Regions from separate parts of the Homo sapiens genome. Here region 2 is linked to region 1. A link means that fine-mapping ties the variant in region 1 to the expression of a gene that starts in the linked region. Tissue or cell type: hypothalamus. Region 1 holds a variant in brackets; the other region holds the start of a gene. All regions are shown on one strand. Distances are from middle to middle.

What was found. PIP is the estimated chance that this variant, and not a neighbour inherited with it, causes the effect.
Region 2: it holds the start of ITCH, and the variant in region 1 is fine-mapped to the expression of ITCH in hypothalamus (GTEx, PIP above 0.99).

The regions. Positions count from the first base shown.
Region 1 is chr20:33,882,020-33,890,122 of GRCh38, reverse strand. No RefSeq gene overlaps it. Among named protein-coding and RNA genes, the nearest start is that of CHMP4B, 75 kb to the right of the region's middle. RefSeq lists enhancers at 6,361-6,620, 6,801-6,920. The variant C/T (reference allele first, on the strand shown) is at 4,803.
Region 2 is chr20:34,358,789-34,366,891 of GRCh38, reverse strand. ITCH (itchy E3 ubiquitin protein ligase) reads right to left here and starts at 3,619. Exons shown (of 25, transcript NM_031483.7): 1 at 3,543-3,619. RefSeq lists a silencer at 3,085-3,314.

The DNA.
Region 1 (8,103 bases):
TGTTGTAAGGTTCTTATACTACATATAAAGTGGTATGATATTATTTGAAGATAGACTCTGACAAATTAAATATGTATACTGTAAACCTTAGGACAACCACTAAAGCCACCACAGTCACTCTCTCAACAGATGTTTTCTTGAGTATATATAATGTACCAGGATCCAGGCCTGGTCCTGGGAAAATGGGACCTTCATGGAGCTCACAGAGCATCCAGTGGGTCCATGGAGACAAACACCTGTTACAAAGTTGGTACAGAGGAGGCACCAATAATTTGGGGGTAGCTTATCCCATACTTTTAGCCCTTCCTCCTTTCTGGAGTCTTCAGGTTATGGAGGATGCGCTGAAGTGCAGATGCCAAGGGTTGTTAAGTGCAATGTGACCCAGGGCAGAGGACAAAAGGACATTGAACTCCTTTCCAAGATAACCACCAAGATGGTGGTGGGGGGCACCTCAGGACTTATTAAGGGGCAGCCAGACCAGCTCTTCTACCTCCCCTGGGCCCCCTTTAAATAAGCAGGTGGGGAGTTGGGGGAGGTCTTTGGAGTTAAGTGTCCCAGCCTGAGGAGAAGGCAGGTGGCACTAAGACTTTTCCCTCCCCTGGGAAGGGAGAATGACTCTCACTTCCTCAATTCAAGCCAAATGTAGGGGGTTCCAAGTGAAATCTCAGAAAGCAGAGCTGCATTTAGGAGGGTCCAACACCTCATTCTCCAGTGGAGGGTCTGCCTAGGCTCCCCTGCTCTCATGCCTCTCTTTTTGGGGAGAAGAACTATGAATGAACTATGAAAAAATATGGGCAGGCAGAGAGGACACGTGGAATAGCCCACACCCCAGCCCCAGCAACTGGGTAGCAAGGGAGTGGGAGGTTTCCAGGAGCCAAGAGGGCATCATGGGAGGGAGACATCTTGCTGCTCTGCCAGCAAAGAGGGCTGCTGACCAGGCAAGGGGGCCCAGAGGAAAACAGGCAGGGAAGGGGAGCTACGGGAGAAAAAGAGGGCACACAGAGTCAGCTGTGGGAATGCAAGGAAAAGAGGCCTCCAAGGATCCCCCAAGGACCTGCACCCCATGCCAGAGCCACCATCCGGCCCTAATGACACAGAAATCCCTGATGGCCAGTCAGGGATGGCCTGAGAGATGGCATTGGCCACAAGAGGTGAGGGAGTCCCCAACAGGAAGCTATTAGGGGAGAGACCTTTTCCCTGTGCCCTCCCTCCTCCATGTTAACCCAGAGGAGAGGTGGGGCTTTCAACTGGGCCAGACTGGCCGGGACTCCCTCATGCTCCAGTGTGATCGGCAGTCCGTACAACCCATGAAGGGACAGGGAAGACAGAATATGGGTGACGGCAGCGATCGGAGAATAAAACTACCCAGGGAGCTCAGTCCAGCCAGTAAACCAGAGACACGGAGAACCAGAGCATCCACTTCAAGACCATTTTTCTTGTTGGCTTTGAAATCTCTTTATTCCCCATCTAGCTCTTTTTAAAGACACAGCTTCCCCAGGGACAAGAGAGATTTGCTATTATGGGTCGAATTGTTCTCTCCAATCCCCTCAAAAAAAAAAAGATATGGACCTCAGAATGTGATCTGATTTGAGAATGGTGTCCTTGCAAGTTTAATTAGTAATTAAAGATGAGGCTATCCTTGAGTAGAATGGGCCCCTAATCTGATAGAACTGCGTTCTTCTAAGGAGACAGCTATGTGAAGTCAGGGAGAATGCCCTGTGATGAGGAAGGCAGAGACTGGAGTTACGCACCCGCACACCAAGGAACGCTGAGGATTGCTGGGAAACCACCAGGAGCTAGGCAGAGGCAAGGAAGGATCCCCCTAGGAAGAGGCAAGAAAGATTTCAGAGGGAGCAGGCCCGGCCCTCACCTTGATTTCAGACTTTTGGCCTCCAGCACTAACAGAATACACTCCTGTAGCTGTAAGCCTTCCAGTTTGTGATACCTTCTTACAGCAAAGATTGTTCAAGGTCTGGCCTGAAAGAGAGGCAGCTGGCACAGCCCTGGAGGAGGAGCAGGATTCGGTGGGAACATCCTGATACAATTAGAAATAAGGAATAAGGACTAACATTTATTGCTCAAGAAATGTGCCTACTACATGCCAGGCCCCATTCGAAGCCCTGTACATGTATTAACTCAAGCAAGTAGGTACCATTATAACTCTATTTTACAGATAAAGAAAGGAAGGCATAGACAGGCGATGTGATTTGCCCAAAATCACACAGCTAGTAATTATCAGGGCAAGAATTTGAACCCAGGCTGTCTGGCTCCCAAGCTGAGGCTCTTAATCACCATATCATCTGCTTCAACAAAATAAGTGAGCAATCAGTGTTATACCTAGGGCCTCCATAAAATACTGGGGGACACTTTGGGAGGCTAAGGCAGGCAGATCACTTGAGGTCAGGAGTTTGAGACCAGACTTGCCAACATGGTGAAACTCCGTCTCTAATGAAAATGCAAAAATTAGCCAGGCGTGGTGGCGGGGGACCTGTAATCCCAGCTGCTCAGGAGGCTGAGGCAGGAGAATCACTTGAACCTGGGAGGCAGAGGTTGTAGTGAGCCAAGATCAAGCCACTTCATTCCAGCCTGGGCAACAGAGTGAGACTCCATCTCAAAAAAAAATACTGAGGGAGTATTGAATTGGTCTCTCCAATCCCGTGTGTGTGTACATAAATATATATATATATATATATATATATATATATATATATATATATATATATATAGAGAGAGAGAGAGAGAGAGAGAGAGAGAGAGAGAGAGAGAGACAGGGACTTACTCTGTCACTCAGGCTGGAGTGCTATGGTACAATCACAGATCACTGCAAACCAGACCTCCTGGGCTCAAGAAATCATCCCACCTCGGCCTCCCAAAATGCTGGGATACACCAGCCTGTGTTCTCATCGGTAAAATGGGAGTGAATAACCCACCACTTCACAGGGCATAATGTACTTGTCATGTGGCTGGCACAGAAGGAACTCGCTGATTGTTCTGACCCCCAGTGGGGGGCTGGGAAAACTCATATTCTGCCCACTGCCTTCCCTGTTCTCTGTGCCTGGTAGAGCTTATTCTGATTTCCATTTGCAAACAGATTCTTCTTCCCCATCTTCTGACCCCTCTGGGAGGCCTAGCATCCAAGCACACTCCTGACAGGAGCGCCAGGCGTGGGTTTCTGAGGGCAGCTCAGAGGCACAGCCAGCTTGAAACAGGCACAGTCATGCCATCCGCTGAGCCTGCAGGCTGTGTACATGGCCCTTGCCATGAAGTGGACATGGTCAGAGGCAAAGATGCAGGGCAGGATGCATGTGTGTGAGCGCCCAGCTATCCACGTACATGTCTGAGCACACATGTGGGTGCATTCACACATGTGCTTGTGAGCGTTGGGGGGATCTTCATATGACACTCTCTGCTTCATGGAATTGGCATTTGCTCATTCATCCTGTGAGTATTTATTGAGTGCCTACTATGTACCAGGCTCTGTTGTAGGAGCTGGGGCTACACCATGAGCAAGACAATTAAATGACTTGCCCTTGTACGGGGAGGCAGACAGTAAACAAGTCATGTCAGACAGTGCATTGGAAGAAATGCGCTGGAAGATGTAGAGTCAGCTTAGGCTGCATAACAAAGTACCACAGACTGGGTAGCTTAAATCAGTGGTCCCAACCTTTTTGGCACCAGGGACGGGTTTCGTGGAAGACAGTTTTTCCATGGATAGTGGGGGGGATGGTTTGGGGATGATTCATATTATATTTATTGTACACTTTATTTATATTATTACCACACTGTAATATACAACGAAATAATTATATGACTCACCATAATGTAGAATCAGTGGGAGCCCTGAGCTTGTGTTCCTTTTTTTTTTTTTTTTTTGAGACGAAGTCTCTCTCTGTCGCCCAGGCTGGAGTGCAATGGCGCGATCTTGGCTCACTGCAACCTCCGCCTCCTGGGTTCAAGCAATTCTCCTGCCTCACCCTCCTGAGTAGCTGGAATTACAAGCGCTCACCACCGTGCCCTGCTAATTTTTGTATTTTTAGTAGAGACAGGGTTTCACCATGTTGGTCAGGCTGGCCTCAAACTCCTCACCTCGTGATCCACCTGCCTCGGCCTCCCAAAGTGCTGGGATTACAGGCGTGAGCCACCAGGTCCAGCCTGAGCTTGTTTTCCTGCGACTAGATGGTCCCATCTGAGAGTCACGGGAGACAGTGACAGATCATCAGGCATTAGATTCTCATAAGGAGCATGCAACCTAGATCCCCCGCATGAACAGTTCACAACAGGGTTCACACTCCTGTGAGCATCTAATGCTGCCGCTGATCTGGCAGGAGGCAGAGCTCAGGCAGCCATTCGTGTGATGGGGAGCGGCTGTATATACAGACGAAGCTTCTCTCCCTCACCAGCCACTCACCTCCTGCTGTGTGCCAGGTTCCTAATAGGCCATGGACCAGTACTGGTCCATGGCCAGGGGATTGAGGACCCCTGGCTCAAATAACAGAAATTTATTTTCCCACAGTTCCAGAGGCAGCAAGTCCAAGACCAAGGCACCCGCAGGGTTTCCTTGGAGGCCTCCCTCCTCGGCTTTCCTCCCCATGTCCTCACACGGCCTTCCCTCTGTGCACCCTCATCCCTTGTGTTGCTTCCCCCTTTTAAAAAGGATACCAGGCCGGGCACAGTGGCTCACGCCTGTTATCCCAGCACTTTGGGAGGCCGAGATGGGTGGATCACGAGCTCAGGAGTTCAAGACCAGCCTGGCCAACATGGTGAAACCCTGTCTCTACCAAAAATACAAAAAAAAAATTAGC[C/T]GGGAGTGGTGGCACGTGCCTGTTAGTCCCAGCTACTCGGGAGACTGAGGCAGGAAAATTGCTTGAACCCCAGAGGCAGAGGTTGCAGTGAACCAAGATCGCATCACTGCACTCCAGCCTGGGAGACAGAGCAAGACTCTGTCTCAAAAACAAAACAAAACAAAACAAACAAACAAACAAACAAAAAGGACACCACTCAGATTGGATTAAGACCCAGCCCTACTGGCCTCATTTTAACTTATTCACCTCTTTAAAGACCTTATCTCCAAACACAGTGACATTCTGAGGTACTCGGGGTTAGGGCTTCAACCTATAAACTTTGGGAAGGACACAATTCATCCCATAACTGCTAAGAAAGTGGGGGTGTTTTTTTTTTTTTTTCAAAGATGGGATCTCACTATGTTGCCCAGGCTGGTCTTGAACTCCTGGCCTCAACTGATCTTCCTGCCTTGGGTTCCCAAAGTTGGCAGGGGTGAGTAGGATATTTTAGTCAAGGTGGTCAGGGAAGGCCTCTTGGAGGAAGTGTCATTTGAGCTGAGGTCTAATCAGGAGATCTGGGGAAAAGAGAGTCCAAGTAGAGGAAAGTATAAGAACAAAAGCCCTGAGGCAGGATCGAGTTTGAGGTCTCTGAGGAACAAGAAGGCCACACTGGCTGGACCTGAGGTTGGGGGTGATGGCAGGCAGGGACGGGGTCAGCAGGGCTTTGTAGGCCACGGGAAGGAGTTTGGATTTTATACAATCCTTCTCCTGCTTCACTAGAGGCCATGGGATGTGGTAAGAGGTGCTGGGACATAGTGATGAATCTGACTCATCTTCCCCATTGCCCCCCCACAGCTCTGACCCCTGCCCAGGTGCTCCCAGCCAGGCAGGCAGATAAGGAGAGGATTTAATCCACTGTGATCATTCCTGAGGCAGAGGAGGTAAGGGAGACCCTGAGGCCCAAAGTGCTAGCCCTGCCTGAACTAGTTAGGTTAGTGTCTCTGGCGGGGCTGCCAGACTCTTGATTTGAGATGAAGAAGCAGAAGCATATCCCAGGCAGAGAGACCTGTGTGGGCTAAAGCCTGGAGAAATGAAAGGGCTGCTGGTGAGCTCTGGTAGGTGGGAGATATGGGACAGGGCAGCAGCAGCACCTGCCACACAAACATCCACTACCTGGGAGCTGGCTAAGGAAATGATGGTCAAGCTGTACCAGAGAATGAAGCAGCCTTCTCTCTGCAGATACAAAAAGATCTCCAAGATGTATTAAGTGCAAAAATGAAAGTATAGAACCACGTTCCTGATAAGCTACCATTTGTATATAAAGCATGTGTGGGGGTGGTAAATATGACGACATATTTGTCCTATTTACATTTGCATAAAGAAACTGGAAGGATACACAAGGAACTAAGGCATGTGGCAGGTGATGGGGACTAGGCAGGTGAGGACGATGCAGGAGTTAGCCTTGTTTTACTGTGTGCCTTTTGAATTGTTTTTGTTTTTGTTTTTGTTTTGAGATGGAGTCTCACTCTGTCACCCAGGCTGGAGTGCAGTGGCATGTTGTCGGCTCACTTCAACCTCCACCTCCCAGATTCAAGTGATCCTGCTGCCTCAGCCTCCTGAGTAGCTGGAATTACAGGTGTGCACCATCACGCCCTGCTAAGTTTTATTTTTTTTAGTAGAGACAGGGTTTCACCATGTTGACCAGACTGGTCTCCTAACCTCAAGTGATCCACCCACCTTGGCGTCCCAAAGTGCTGGGATTATAGGCATGAGCCACCACACGCAGTCCTGAATGTAATTTTTGAAACCCATAATCATGAAACTCATTCTTAAAAATTGAAGAGCAAGAGTACAGAGGATGCGGCGCGGGAGCTGAGGTCACCAGGGCTGAGGTTGCTGTCATAGTATAAAAAGAGACATACTGCAACTGTGAGATTAACAAGAGCCATAGGACCCACTTAAGCATCTCACAGGCCGGACACCAGGTGTCACTTAGCAGTTGATACAGCCTGGCCCCAGGATTTCCAACCCTGGCCAGGGGATTTCCAGAAAACAAGACCACCTCAGCACAGATGCAACTTTCATAAACCTTGAAACAAAGCTTCCCCTTACAAGAATAGCTTAAACTTCTTTTTTGAAAGAAACACCTGGCGACTAACCTAGACTGAACCCAGGTCTAGGGAAGGGAGAAGGATCCCCCAAACTCTGAGGATGGTCTCTACACAGAGACCCTCCTGGTCAGCTGGTCCTCTGACCTCCTAAGTGTATCTGGCCCGTGTCATTGATGTCTGTCTCGTAACAGCACAGCCAAAATAAATCACTTGAGGCCGGGCACCATGGTTCATGCTTGTAACTCAGAACTTTGGGAGGCCAAGGGAGGAAGATGGGTTAAGGCCAGGAGTTCAAGACCAGCCTGGGCAACACAGCAAGATCCCATCTTTTTTTTTTTTAAGAAAAGGATAAACCGTTTGAGCATCAGGCAGTGTCTAAGACTCATCTTTGACACGAATCAAACCAAAGGAGAGAAATCGCTCGTGGGGAAGCTGGTCACCTAGGACCACCCGAACACAACAGCTGCTTATGATTTGGGCAGTAGGGAGCCATGGAAGGATTTAAAGGTAGGGAGGAGGTGTGTGACGTGATCAGACTTGTGAGCAGCCAGTGCGGAGAGTGGTTCACAGGGGGCAGCATGGAGGAGGCAGGTGTGACCATCCAGCTAGTGCCTGGCCTCTGATCTAGGGCAGAGACAAGGAGGTGGGGTGGGGAGCAGAGCGTTGGAGGGGGAAGGGACAGTAGAAGGCAGAGCTAACGAGGCTCCACTGCCAGGCAGGGATGCTAACCAGCTCCTTCCCCTCGGAAAAGAGGTGGATGTCAAATCTTGAGCCCCGCCCAGCCACACTGGCCCCTGATAAATCCCCTCTGGCCAGTCATTACTCTTCTCACGTGCAGCCCCCTAATTGCCCAGAGATGAAGTGTCTGAGGCTGCCCTCTTGCCATGGCAGACAAATGCCTGTTTGAGCAGAAGCCGGAGGGAACAGGACAGATGGGGTCCTGTTCAGCTTCCCTGCTCCCAGATCCCGGGCCTCGCTGCTCCTGTGGGCTTTGGGAAACCAACAAGGGTTTGTGTTTAATGAGGCTGCCTGCTCATCCATCACGCAAGGCCAGTGCCTTGACGACAGCAACCACCAAAGATGAGGGCCAGGCCAGGGTCCCTGAATCAGAGCAGGGTGAGGGTGGGGCAGGCTCAGTGCAATCGAATCCAGGCTGTGTAAATCACCACACCTCTCCAGGCTGTGATTTCCTCACCAAAATGGGGATCATG
Region 2 (8,103 bases), 480 kb before region 1:
TCAACTAGACTTCTGCAATAGCTAGTCCCTCATCCTTTCGCTCATCACCAGAGCAATCTTTCTTTTTTTGTTTTTTGATACCTATCTTTGTCCTGCAGTACACAGCAATTTTCTAAAACACATATGTACTCACATCATTTCCCTGTCGAAAAATCTGCATCTATTTCTTTTTTTTTTCCTTCCTTTTGGTAAAGACGGGATATCACCATGTTGCCCAGGCTGGTCTCAAACTCCTGAGCTCAAGCGATTCACCCGCCTCAGCCTCCCAAACTGTTGAGATTACAGGTGTGAGGCACTGAGCCCAGCCCTGTATCTATTTCTACCAACATAAAATTCCAAATTTTTAGCATTATACTTAAAATTTTTAGCCAGAGCACAGTAGCTTACACCTGTAATCCCAACACTTTAGGAGGCCAAGGTGGGAGGACCACTTGAACACAGGAGTTAAGACCAGACTGGGCAACGTAAAGAGAACCTTTCTCTACAAAAAAATTTTAAAAATTAGCCAGGCATGCTAATGCATGCCTGTTGTCCCAGCTACTCAGGGAGGCTGGGGTGGGAAGATCACTTGAGCTCTGGAGGTCCTGTCACTGCACTCCATCCTGCGTGACTGGGTGAGACCCAGTCTCAACAACAAAAAATCACTTTTCATATACTTGCTTCCTTTAACCTTTCTGACCTTGCGTTTCAAAATGCTCTCCTTCCCCATTCCACTCCACACTCCCTGAACCCTTTTTGTTCCATAATCCTCTGAATTTACACACAGCATTAAGGCATTCACTCAGCCTACCCTGTCCTTCTCTTTCCCCGCCCTTTTCACACTCCTACTCTTCATGTAAGACCCAATGTGGGTTCAGGGGCAAATCTTGCCTCTTCTAACCAATCCTCCACCCAGCCACACACACAGAATTGGCCACTTCCTCTTTCGTCTCAAAGCTTTTTGACCTTTCCTTGGTAAGTCTACAGTACCATTTGCCCTCAGTGGTTCCCAAGACCATCAGAATTACCTAAGGCATGTGTTAAAAATAAATTGGTTGAAGCCAACCCAGACCTACTAAATCCATCTCAGAAGGTAAGACCCTGGAATTTCTAAGCTCTCCTAATTATTCTAATGGTCAAATTTGGGGACTACTGGTTTGTCTGCCTCTCCCAATAAGTGAAAAGATGTATTTTTTAGGGCCAGGAGTGGCGGCTCATGCCTGTAAACCCAGCACTTTGGGAGGCCAAGGCAGGTGGATCACGAGGTCAGGAGTTCGAGAGCAGCCTAGCCAATATGGTGAAAACCCATCTCTACTAAAAAATACAAAAAAATTACCGGGAGTGGTGGCACGCGCCTGTAGTCCCAGCTACTACGGAGGCTGAGGCAGAAGAATTGCTGGAACCCGGGAGGCGGAGGTTACAGTAAGCCGAGATCACACCACTGTACTCCAGCCTGGGTGACAAAGTTAGATTCCGTCTCAAACAAACGAAAAAGATGTATTTTTTTCTAAAGAATGTAGAAATGTTTGATTCTAGAATACACTGAAGAAGTAGTCTGTACTCATTTTTTTAATTTCATATGATATCCTTGGTGACTTGACCTGTATGCTGAATGTAATGGAATTCCTTTTGGACTCACAAAACTTAAATTCACAGTTCAAAGAAGCAGTAGAATTTCCACCTTCATTTCTAAATTTTTTTTTTTATTTTTTGAGACAGGGTCTCACTCTGTCACCCAGGCTGGAATGCAGTGGCAACGGTAACAGCTCACCGCAGCCTCGACCCCCCGGAATCAGGTGATTCCCCCACCTCAGCCTCCTGAGTATCTGGGACCACAGGCGCCTGCCACCACACCCGGCAAATCTTTGTATTTTTTGTAGAGACGGGGTTTCACGATGTTGCCCAGGCTGATCTCCAATTCCTGGGCTCACGTAATCCGCCCACCTCGGCCTCCCAAATTGCTGGGATTACAGGCGTGAGCCACCACACCCATCCCATTGCTTTTTTTTTTTTTTTTTTTTTGAGGCGGAGTCTCGCTCTGTCGCCCAGGCTGGAGTGCAGCAGCGAGATCTCGGCTCACTGCAGCCTCCACCTCCCGGGTTCAAGCCATTCTCCTGCCTCAGCCTCCCTAGTAGCTGGGACTACAGGCGCGCGCCACCACGCCCAGGATTTTTTTTTTTTTTTTTTTGTATTTTTAGTAGAGACGGGGTTTCACCATGTTGGTCAGGATGGTCTCGAACTCCTGACCTCATGATCTGCCCGCCTCGGCCTCCCAAAGTGCTAGGATTACAGGCGTGAGCCACACACAGCACCCGGCCCATTTCTTAATTTTAAAAATAAATCGTAGCTTAAATAAACCTGTAAATACACATAGCAAGCTCTCAGCAGATCTGCCATGAGAACTTCACCTCAACTGATAAACCATTCCTTAGCCGATTTTGAGAATGGAAATACACTGCCTTTACATACTTCCTGAAGATCGAATTCTATCAGGAAAAGATGCAGGAGAACCCACCTAAGTGGGTGGCTGGCTCCAGGGTCTTACTAATTTTCAAGGCAAAAATCCCACAATTCCCCATCCCCCACTCCAAACCAAGTATACTGTAGCTGTGGAAGAATGGCAGAAAATGTAATAAGATTAGGATACGAATACAACCAAGAAAACAAGGTTGCGTTGTTATTGGGGATAATGAATTCCTGGCCCTTTACAAGTTCACCTGGTTACATGTCCAACTAACTTTAGGCCCAGCGTCTACTTCGGGCGCACAAATTCTGCGATTCTCTTTTCTGTCGCGGACGGGAACTGTCTTGGAAAACTTGAGTTCTCCACTTAAAAGTCATGTCATCATGCTTCGACCCTTAGAATACGTTCAACGGCTACTTTTTTCTTTTCTCTGCTAAAGAAAAGGGCACTCTCCGGAGGAAGGGCAGTGACAGCTCCACGTCTGCAAAAGTCGGCGCCGCCACGACGGTGGCGGACGTCGGGGAGGGCGCCGGAGCCGGGACCACCACGCCGGGGGGACAATGGAAGGAGGAGGCGAGTGGGAGAGAGAAGGGGAGGCAGCCGCTGTGCTGGGCCCTTCTAGCGACTGGGGGCTCGGAAAAGTCTCGAGAAGGCCAGCTGGGTGGCGGGGGACCCGGCCGCCGCCCCTCACAGGGCCACGTCGCCCGCGCCGGCCCCGCCGCCGGGCCCCGCGCGTAGGCCGAACCGCTGGAGAGTGGCCCCAGGCGGGGCTGAGGGGCGAGGGGCCGGACGGTACCCACGCCCGTCGTGGCCCAGCCCTTTCACAACTTGGAGCCCGCGAGGCGAAGGCCTCCGGAAGCCTGTGCCAGACACTGATCCCTCCGAACGTCCAGACAGCCCACCCCCACCGCCCGGCCCGGGCCAGTAGCCCGAGCTCCCCGCGCCCCCGACAGACACCGGCTCTGGAAGAAGGAGCAGCCGCGGCTCTGGGGTCCCGAACCGCGCGTCCCACTCCTCTACCCTTGTTCTCCCCGAACATTCTCATCCGGACTCCCTCCCTCTCCCGAGAACTGCCCCGAGTTCGCCCACGGGGGTTTACCGGGACTCGGGGCGGCGGCGACTCCTCAGTCCCTAGACTAAGATGGCAGCCGGTCCCGAGCCCCGACCACAGCTACTAGAGCGAGTTAGCAGCTAAAGCGCAGGCGCCTGAGCGCGGAAGTGGTCTAGACTACAAGCCCCAGCAGGCCTTGCGCGCCAGCCGTCCGGCCCGCCCCTGGCTTGAAGAGCTGGCTGCGGTGGTAAATCAGTTAAATCCCAGTTTTCCTCAGCTCCAGGTGAGATGGGCGCGAGCGGCTCCCAGCACCTCCAGGCTTTTTTTTTTTTTTAACACCCCGCCCACCAGAGCCTATAAGGACTGTGATTCTCAAACTATGGTGTGCATCAGAATCACCTAGAGAGCTTATTAAAACTTACACTGCTGACCCCCACCCCCAGAGTTTCTGATCAGAAGATCTGGCATAGGAGGATAGGGTCTGATAATTTGCATGTCCAACAAGCTGTCTAGTGATACTGCTAGTGAGTGAAATCATAATTTGAGAACCAATGGGCTATATAGCTTAGTTTATAACTTAGTTGTTCTTTTTTCTTTTTCTTTTCCTTTTCTTTTTTTTTCTTCTTTTTGAGATAAGGTCTCACCCTTCACCCAGGCTGGAGTGCAGTGGTGCAGTCATAGCTCACTACAGCCTCACACTCCTGGGCTCAAGCGAGCCTCCCACCTGGGCTTCCTGAGTAGCTGGGACAGCAGTTGAGCACCACCACACCCGACTAATTTTGTTCTATTCTTTGTAGAGATGGGGATGGGGTGGAGTGCGGATGGGATGGGGCGGGAATAGGGCCACGGTGTCGCCATGTTGCCCAGGCTGGTCTCCAGCTCCTGGGCTCAAGCGATACTCCCTCCTCGGGCCTCCCAATCGCTGAGATTACAGATGTGAGCCACTGCACCTGGCCTGGCTTAGCCTTTAACAATGTACATTAAAGGGCGTGGTTAAAAAGAAAATAAAAGAAAAAAAATGTACACTTGAGAGTTACACTGACCGGATTCAAATCCTCCCTTTTCTACCTTTTAACTGGGTGCCCTTAGGGATGATGACAACAGCTTAGTGGAGCCAACGTGGCCTGTCCGGTATTCTAAGAGCTGATACCAAGCTCCCTTTATTCTCACAACAAACCTATTACAGAAATACCATTATTATCCCCATTTTACAAATATATAAACTAAGTCACATACTTGATAAGAACCCAGGCAGTCTGGCGTGAAAGTCCGTTGTCTTAACCTTCTTCATGGATTGCTTGTGAGAAATAATAGGCTATGCAGGCAGAGACTCAGAGGTATGACTAAGTGCTCAATACTTAGTGACCTTTGCTATTACTGTTTAGCCTGTTTCCTCCTAATGAAAATAGTATTTTGCCATCTGGAAAGTCACATTTTTCAAAGTGACTTTTTTTTTTTTTTTTTTTTTGAGACAGAGTCTTGCTCTGTCACCCAACCTGGAGTGCAGCGGTGCAATCATAGCTCACTGCAGCCAACCTCCTGGGCTCAAGTGATCCTCTCACCTCAGCTTCCTGAGTAGCTGGGACTCCAGGCTCAAGCCACCACACTATCCTAATTGTTTTTATTTTTGTAGAGACGTGGACTCCCTGTGTTGCCCAGGCTGTTCTCAGACTCCTAGGCTTGGCTAGGGTCAGTGGCTTACACCTGTAATCCCAGGAGTTAGGGAGGCCAAGGCAGGCAAATCACTTGAGGTCAGGAGTTTGAGACCAGTCTGGCCAACATGGTGAAACCCCGTCTCTTTTTTTTTTTTTTTTTTTTTTTGAGACAGAGTATTGCTCTGTCGCCCAGGCTGGAGTGCAGTGGCGCAATCTTGGCTCACTGCAACCTCCGCTCGCCTCCTGGGTTCAAGTGATTCTCCTGTCTCAGCCTCCTAAGTAGCTGGGACTACAAGCGCATGCCATCACGCCTGGCTAATTTTTGTATTTTTAGTAGAGTTGGGTGAGCCACCACGCCTAGCCTTGTGAAACCCCTTCCCTACTAAAAACACAAAAATTAGCCAGGTGTGGTGGCGGGTGCCTGTAATCCCAGCTACTTGGGAGGCTGAAGCACGATAATTGATTGAACCCAGGAGGGGGAGGTTGCAGTGACCCAAGATCACGCCATTGCACTCCAGCCTGGGCGACTCAGCGAGACTCTGTCTCAAAAAACAAACAACAAAAGAAACATAAAGGCTGGGCGCAGTAGCTCACTCCTATAATCCCAGCACTTCGGGAGGCTGAGGCGGGTGGATCACCTGAGGTCAGGAGTTTGAGACCAGCCTGGCCAACATGGTGAAATCTTGTCTCTACTAAAAATGCAAAAATTTGTTGGGCATGGTTTGGGAGGCCGAGGCGGATGGATCAACTGAGGTCAGGAGTTCAAGACCAGCCTGGCTAACATGGTGAAACCCCATCTCTACTAAAAATGCAAAAATTAGACCGGGCACGGTGGCTCACGCCTATAATCCCAGCACTTTGGGAGGCCAAGGCGGGCGGATCACGAGATCAGGAGTTCAAGACCAGCCTGGCTATCATGGTGAAACCCTATCTCTACTAAAAATACAAAAATTAGCCGGGCGTGGTGGCGGGTGCCTGTAATCCCAGCTAGTCAGGAGGCTGAGGCAGAGAATTGCTTGGACCTGGGAGGCGGAGGTTGCAGTGAGCCAAGATCGTGCTACTGCACTCCATCCTGGGCCACAGAGCGAGAATCTGTCTCAAAAAAAAAAATGCAAAAATTAGTTGGGCATGGCACACCCCTGTAATCTCAGCTACTCGGGAGGCTGGGGTGGGAGAATTGCTTGAACTCAGGAGACGGAGACTGCAGTGAGCCAAGATCACGCCACTGCACTCCATCCTGAGTGACAGAGTGAAACCCCATCTAAAAAAAATAAAAAATCAAACTCCTAGGTTCAAGCCTTCAAGCCTCAAGCAAAGTACTTTCAAAACCACTTCATGTTTCCTGCAACATGCCTTAGGAAAGATTGCTAAAATACAGATTCCTGCGCCCCATCCTCATTCAGTTTCTCTAGTGCAGTGGTTTTCAAACCTCAGTACTTATCAGAATTGCCTGCAAAGTTAGTTAAACTGTAGGTTGCTGAGGCCACTCCTAGAGTTTCTGATTCAGTAGGTCTGGGGCAGGGCCTGAGAATTTGCTTTTTTTTTTTTTGGAGACTGAGTCTCACTCTGTCGCCCAGGCTTGAGTGCAGTGGCCCAACCTCCGCTCACTGCAACCTCTGCCTCCCGGGTTCAAGCGATTCTCCCGCCTCAGCCTCCCGAGCAGCTGGGATTACAGGTGCATGCCACCACGACTGACTAATTTTTGTATTTTTGTAGAGATGGGGTTTCACCATATTGGCCAGGCTGGTCTTGAACTCTTGAGCTTGTGATCTGCCCGCCTTAGCCTCCCAAAGTGCTGGGATTATAGGCGTGAGCCACCGCACCCGGCCAGTACAAGGTATTTTTATGACCATTATACAGAGAAGAAAACTGAGTGTGACAGAAATTAAATGGCTTGTTGAAGATCACTCAGCCAGGAACCAGGGATCTAACCCTAAGTCCTGTAGCTCCAGATTCTGTATTCACCTACAATTTTAAAAACTATGTAAGGTTAGGCAAAACTAGTCTATGGTGTTAGAAGTCAGGATACTGGTTACTCTTTGAGGGGAGGGTGTACCTGGAAGAAGGCACAAAGACACCTCTCAGGATAGGTAATAATGTTCTGTGCCCTGATCTGGGTGGTGTTACTGTTTCAGGAAAAGGGTCCTGATTCAGACCCCAAGAGAGGGTTCTTGGATCTCGTGCAGGAAAGAATTTGGGGCAAGTCCATACAATAAAGTGAAAACAAGTTATTTATTTATTATTCTTTTTCAGACAGAGTTTTGCTCTTGTCACCCTGGCTGGAGTGCAGTGGGGCAATCTCAGCTCACTGTAACCTCCGCCTCCTGGGTTCAAGTGATTCTCCTGCCTCATCCTCCTGAGTAACTGGGATTACAGGCGCACACCACCACACCCAGCTAATTTTTGTATTTTTAGCAGAGGTGGAGTTTCACCATGTTGGCTAGGCTGATCTTGAACTCCTGACCTCAGGTGATCCACCTGCCTCGGCCTCCCAAAGTGCTGGGATTACAGGCATGAGCCACGGCACCCAGCCGATAATGAGTTTATTAAGAAAGTAAAGGGGCCGGGCGTGGTGGCTAACGCTTGTAATCCCAGCACTTTGGGAGGCTGAGGGGGGTGGATCACGAGGTCAGGAGTTCAAGACCAGCCTGGCCAACATAGTGAAACCCCACCTCTACTAAAAATACAAAAATTAGCTGGGCGTGGTGACGTGCGCCTATAATACCAGCTACTCCAGAGGCTGAGGCAGGAGAATTGCTTGAACCAGGACCCAGGAGGCAAGGTGGAGGCTGCAGTGAGCCGACATCGTACCACTGCACTCCAGCCTGGGCAACAGAGCAAGACTCCATCTCAAAAAAAAAGAAAAAGAAAAAAGAAAGTAAAGGAGGCCGAGCGTGGTGGCTCACACCTGTAATCACACCACTTTGGGAGGCTGAGGCGGGTGGATCACTGGA